2 separate regions of the Homo sapiens genome follow, and region 2 is linked to region 1. A link means that fine-mapping ties the variant in region 1 to the expression of a gene that starts in the linked region. Tissue or cell type: whole blood. Region 1 holds a variant in brackets; the other region holds the start of a gene. All regions are shown on one strand. Distances are from middle to middle.

Evidence for each region. PIP is the estimated chance that this variant, and not a neighbour inherited with it, causes the effect.
Region 2: WIPF2 starts here. The variant in region 1 is fine-mapped to the expression of WIPF2 in whole blood (INTERVAL, PIP 0.99).

The regions. Positions count from the first base shown.
Region 1 is chr17:40,279,286-40,282,041 of GRCh38, reverse strand. WIPF2 (WAS/WASL interacting protein family member 2) reads right to left here. Exons shown (of 8, transcript NM_133264.5): 8 at 1-2,756. Among named protein-coding and RNA genes, the nearest start is that of CDC6, 7.2 kb to the left of the region's middle. RefSeq lists enhancers at 1-59, 60-996. The variant C/T (reference allele first, on the strand shown) is at 1,598.
Region 2 is chr17:40,218,061-40,220,678 of GRCh38, reverse strand. WIPF2 (WAS/WASL interacting protein family member 2) reads right to left here and starts at 1,375. Exons shown (of 8, transcript NM_133264.5): 1 at 1,187-1,375. RefSeq lists enhancers at 756-1,534, 1,435-1,544, 1,985-2,034.

The DNA.
Region 1 (2,756 bases):
TTGTAATGGCCCTCCTCTCTCCCCTCCCATTCCCGAAATTAGGGTAGCTTAACAGAAAGCCACCTTGACCACATGGCCAGGGACTGAGATTCAATGGGGAAAGAAAGACTGTAGCTGGAATGTGAAGAATTTGATTTGCAGTTGATTGCAGGTTGGGTTTCCGGAAGGGCAGACAGCTCAATGTAGTGCCATCATAGGGCCTCAGATGCCCACACTCCACCCCCAGAGCTTCACAAAATGGAAGGACCCTGGAGTCACCCTTCTCCCCCACCCCCATAAGCACTCAGCCTACAGATTATTTCAAGTGATCAGGAGAATTAAAACACACCCCAACCCTGAGTTGCTCTTTAGCAAGTCTATTTACAATTTTTTTCTCACCTCTCCCTGGAGGTAAATCTGGGTTTCAAGTTGGGAAGCCATGGGGTGAGGGAGTTCCCCAGTGCAATGGCCGATGACGAGTATCCTTGCCACTGCCAGTTAACAGGGCTGGGATGAGCTCCTGTAGACAGCAGCCTCACATCCATCAGCTAGGGTAGCCCTAGGTTCTCACTCTGTTGGCCTACGCTGTGAAAATGATGGGGCTCTGCAGTGGAGCAAATCCCCATGACAGAGAAAATCACACCTGGAATATCAAAGTGCTTTGGTCCAGGTTCAGTGACCAGAGAAGAGGAAGAGGGGCATCTAGCTCATTTAAAAACCTGGAGGTTTGCCCTGCTTCCCAGACAGGGCAGTAAGAAACAACTATAACGTTTTTCCCATTAGGGAAAAACATCACAAAACCAAACCCATAGAAGGGCTTTTAACACAGCTTCCTGATGCTTAGCTGGGCAATGTCTCTTCCTTCTGTGGGGGGACAAGGGAGTTAATGGGACTGGGCAACAGCCTCAACATGAGACCACCCAATCTTCCACGAAAGAGACGACATTCCCACAAGCAGATAAAAAGAGCAGTTTAAAAGGTGAGGAGTTTTAGTGCTCTTGTAGCCAGCCCACCTTAAACCTAAATTAGAAGCTTTTTACAACATACAAAATAGACTGATAACTATGCAGATCACATTCCCATCTTCAATAGTAAATATACATAGTAATAAATCTATTATTAACAGTGGGACCAAATAACATATAAGGCAGACATTTAAACAGGTGTTGTATCATCAACATGCTCTAAAAAAAACTCATCTGACTAGATCTAGACCCAGGCCTTTTTGCATGAGGCCAAGACAACAAGTATACAATCAATACCCATGTGACACAGTCCAAGTGCTGGGGAATATGAGGGGGCAGTGGGCCATGGGGAGGAAGATATCAGCCCCAGTGAAAAGCTGGGGTTTGGCTTTACTCGTGATATTTTGATGCTCTATGTCTGAGTAAAGGAGGAAAAAAAAAAAAACACTTTGATAACGTACAAAAGGCATCGACTCCCATTTCAAAAATAAATGGGAAGACTTCACAGTCAAAGTTCAGTCACTTGTCAGTATCTGCCCTGGAACTCTGATGCAGTATCAACTCTTGTACTCTCTCCTTTTCCCTCCACTAGCATGCCCTCTCTCAGTTGTTTGGTTTGTTTGTTTTCTGAGATGGAGTTTCACTCTGTCACC[C/T]GGGCTGGAGCGCAGTGGCGCCATCTCCACTCACTGCAACCTCCACCTCCTGGATTCAAGCGATTCTCCTGCCTCAGCCTCCCCAGTAGCTGGGACTACAGGCACATGCCACCACGCCCAGATAATTTTTGTGTTTTTAGTGGAGACGGGGTTTCACCATGTTGGACAGGCTGGTCTCGAACTTCTGACCTCAGGTGATCCGCCCGCCTCGGCCTCCCAAATTGCTGAGATTACAGGCATAAGCCACAGCGCCCGGCAGTTCTGTTTGCTTCAGGATGCTAGGGATACTTCTGGGAGATAACTGCTAACAGATTAGAAAGAAGAATGATACATAAAAAATGATTAGGAAAAGTTTGGTGACAGACCTAATCATGGTCTGTCCCAGAGTTAATATGGTCCAGGGGATGGCAAAGGACAGCAGACCCCATACACATTACCCCCGTTGAGCCCTCCCTCACCTAGCACTGGGGAGACTTGGGTTTCACCTGGCACCATGCACAGATCCCTAGCCTGTGATCCAATCAACTGGAAAGGTCTCTAAGACAGTTTAAGCCTGTGATGTGTGTGATTAAATTTTTTTTTTTTTTTTTTTTTTGAGACGGAGTCTGGCTCTGTCGCCCAGGCTGGAGTGCAGTGGCGCAATCTCGTGATTAAATTTTTAAGCTAATTTTCCCCATCCATTTCAAAGAGTAGCCATGGTCTCCTTGCTCTCATGCCACGCTCTGAGCACCCTCTACACATAGCAACAGTTGTAGAAAACCAAAGCATCTGGTGTGTGGAGCCCAAGAGCCCCATCCTGCTGTCGGAAAAAAAGAAGTCCTCATCCAATCAGCTTCCTACCTAGACTGGGGACCTCCATTTTCTCTGTGCTCTTTAGGACCCGGAAGACAAAGAAACAACCTATGGCTGGCTGCCAAGGAAGATCTACTGAACTGAGGCAAATCTCAACAAAGTCTTTGTGCTTCCTGGCATAGAAGAGTATCTGAATATCTTCATAAGCCTCTGCTCACTTCTTCACCCTTCTGTACTCTGCTGTGTTAAACCGTGCAGTCCTGGGAAGGCAAGGGTGGTAGAGAAAGGAACAGGAAGAGTCTGCTCAGTCAGGTGGGCTGTGAACTTCAGTACAGGCAGGACTTAAAAGTCCTTTGCAGCCCCACAA
Region 2 (2,618 bases), 61 kb after region 1:
CTGGACAACAGGGCAAGACTCTGTCTCCAACAACAACAACAAAAAAATATATATATATACATATATATATATATATATATATATATATATATATATATATATATACACACACACACGTTAGGCGGGAGTAGTGGTCACACCTGTGGTCCCAGCTATTGGCGGGGCTTAGGTGGAAGGACCACTTCAGCCCGGGAGGTCGAGGCTTTAAGGAGCCATGATCATGCCACTGCACTCCAGCCCGGGCGACAGAGTGAGACCACGTCTCTTAAAAGAAAAAAAAAGAAAAAAGAATTCCATCACATATCAGTTCCTTGCCTCAATGCTATTTTTAAGAACTTTCCTTCCTGATAAAAAACTCGACCATACACACTGCCATGCTGAACACTTTAACATTTCCATCTTGGCCGGGTGCAGTGGCTCACACCTGTAATCCCAGCACTCTGGGAGTCCAAGGTGGGAAGATCGCTTGAGCCCAGGAGTTCAAGACTAGTCTGAGCAACATAGCCAGACCCCACCTTTAAAACAAAAAAAAAAAAATTCCATCTTCCCTCACTTCACACCACTTCAACATGAACCCTCAACTCCAGACGTTCCAATGCGCATCTTAACATTCTCAATCCAACCTTTAACTAAATTCTGATTCCTTTTCAAAGAACGCTCTCAAGATTCCCTCTAGTGTAAGCAGTTTCCCGAGCCATCTTCCCAAACACTAGCTTTCACCTAACTCAATCCCCAAAATGTCACACTGGACTCCTCACCCACAGCATCCTGCTAATTAGCCGTTCCCAACAGGTCCTCCGTTCCCGTCTCCCTTTTTGCGCACGATTACCTCGTTCCTCACAGAGTTGCCGCCTTAACTCACCCAACCCTTCAGGAGCCCTTATTGCCTGTCTCTCAAAAACGTTCCTCCCCATTTTTCCAGTCCCCGCTCGCCCCATACCAATATTCGACCACTCCTCCCCAGATTCCCCACGCCCTCTCTCCTCCAGGTTCTTCCGATACAGTCCCCCGGCCCCCCGCCCCTCAGGCCCCACCCGCAAGACCCCTCTCCCCCTCCGGCCCCTCCTCTAATGCCCCCCTCTCTTCTCAAGCCCCGCCCCGAGCCCCCCTCCCCGCGACTTTCCCTCCCACTCAGGTCCGCAGGTCATTTCAGCGACTGACCCAGCCGCCCCGGCCTCTTTCCGACCTGGCCGCAGCTGCTCTGGGAGCGAATCCTCTGCCGCCTACACTCCGGCTTCGTCCTGTCCTGCTCGCCCCCCGGCAAGCTCTTTCTCGCCGTCGCCGCCGCCGCCGCCGCCGCCGCCGCCGCCACCGCCCCTTTTGCCAACCCGGAAATGGATCTGCTCCCACCGTCCCCAGCGTCCGCGAACAAAATGGAGGCGGGGGAAAAAGGAGGAGAGAGCAGGGAGCGGAGAGATGCGAGACGCATGCGCCCCTGGGAAGCCCGCCCCCTGCCGGCCCACGTAAAGGCGGAAGCGGTTGAGTGGACGCCATCTTAGGAAGGTCACAGGAATTCCGCTTACCAGCTAAAAGCTGGGTTTGCAACTTTAGCTGCAATTGGAATCACCTGGCAAGATTTAAATACTATGATGCCTGGTTCCCACCCCTGGAAATTATAATTTAATTCTGGGGTGCAGCCTAGGCATCAGGAAATTGTTGCAGGTGATTCTAACGTGTTGCCAAGGTGGAGAACCACTGAGCTAAACAGTCATTGTTGAATATACTCCTTTCGTCTTTAATCCGCCGCACACACACACACCCTCCCCCCTAAATATCCTTCCTTAATCTCGAGTTAACGAAGAACCCGCCTCGGCCAACCTTGCAAAGGCCAAGTAGTCAAGCTCCGGTTGTCATGGCAACAGAGGCAGGCCACTGCTCACAAGTCATCATTTACGTCATCTTACCCACCTGACTCGAACACCGTCTCTTCTTTCTCGGGCTGGGGTTTCCTCCAGCTTCCAGGGCTATAGGATGGTGCTGTGGACCCCTCCAGCTGCTTGGGCCAGAGAGAGAAATCCTGTGCCCTCTTTGATGGAGCTGCTGTTAAACCCTGACAGCTGACTAAGTATCTCTCCCTAGTCCACCCAGAAAAGCGCTTTCCATTATAGCTTCAAAATACTCTTGGTTTAATTCCATTCCCAGCACAGAATCCGAAGTAAGGGGGCAAGATTGGGACTTAGTCCCCATTACTTACAAGCTGTGTGCCATTGGGCCTTAGCTACCCTATCTGTAAAATGGGTCTAATAGTGCCTGTCCCGTCTGTCTCATAGAGTTGTTGCAAAGCTGAAATCAGTTAATGAATGGGAAAACGTGATAGAGCATAAGTTGTTATTATTTTTGTTTTCCTTCTATTCTGCCATGAGTAGTACTAGGCACCACCCACTAGTCAAGTAAATGTCACATTGAGTACCTGCTAAACACCAGGAGATGGCTACAGAGGTGACTAAGACAGAGCCTCTGCCCTCAGGGAACTCACTACGTTGGTGGGCAGACTGGCATAAACAGCTAGCTGAGATACAAGTCAGCGTGTGATTAGTGCTGTGGGACGTCAGACAAGGGAGCAATTAATTCCTGCTAAAGAATGGAAGGAGGTTTCCTAAATGGTTTGGAGCTGGGCC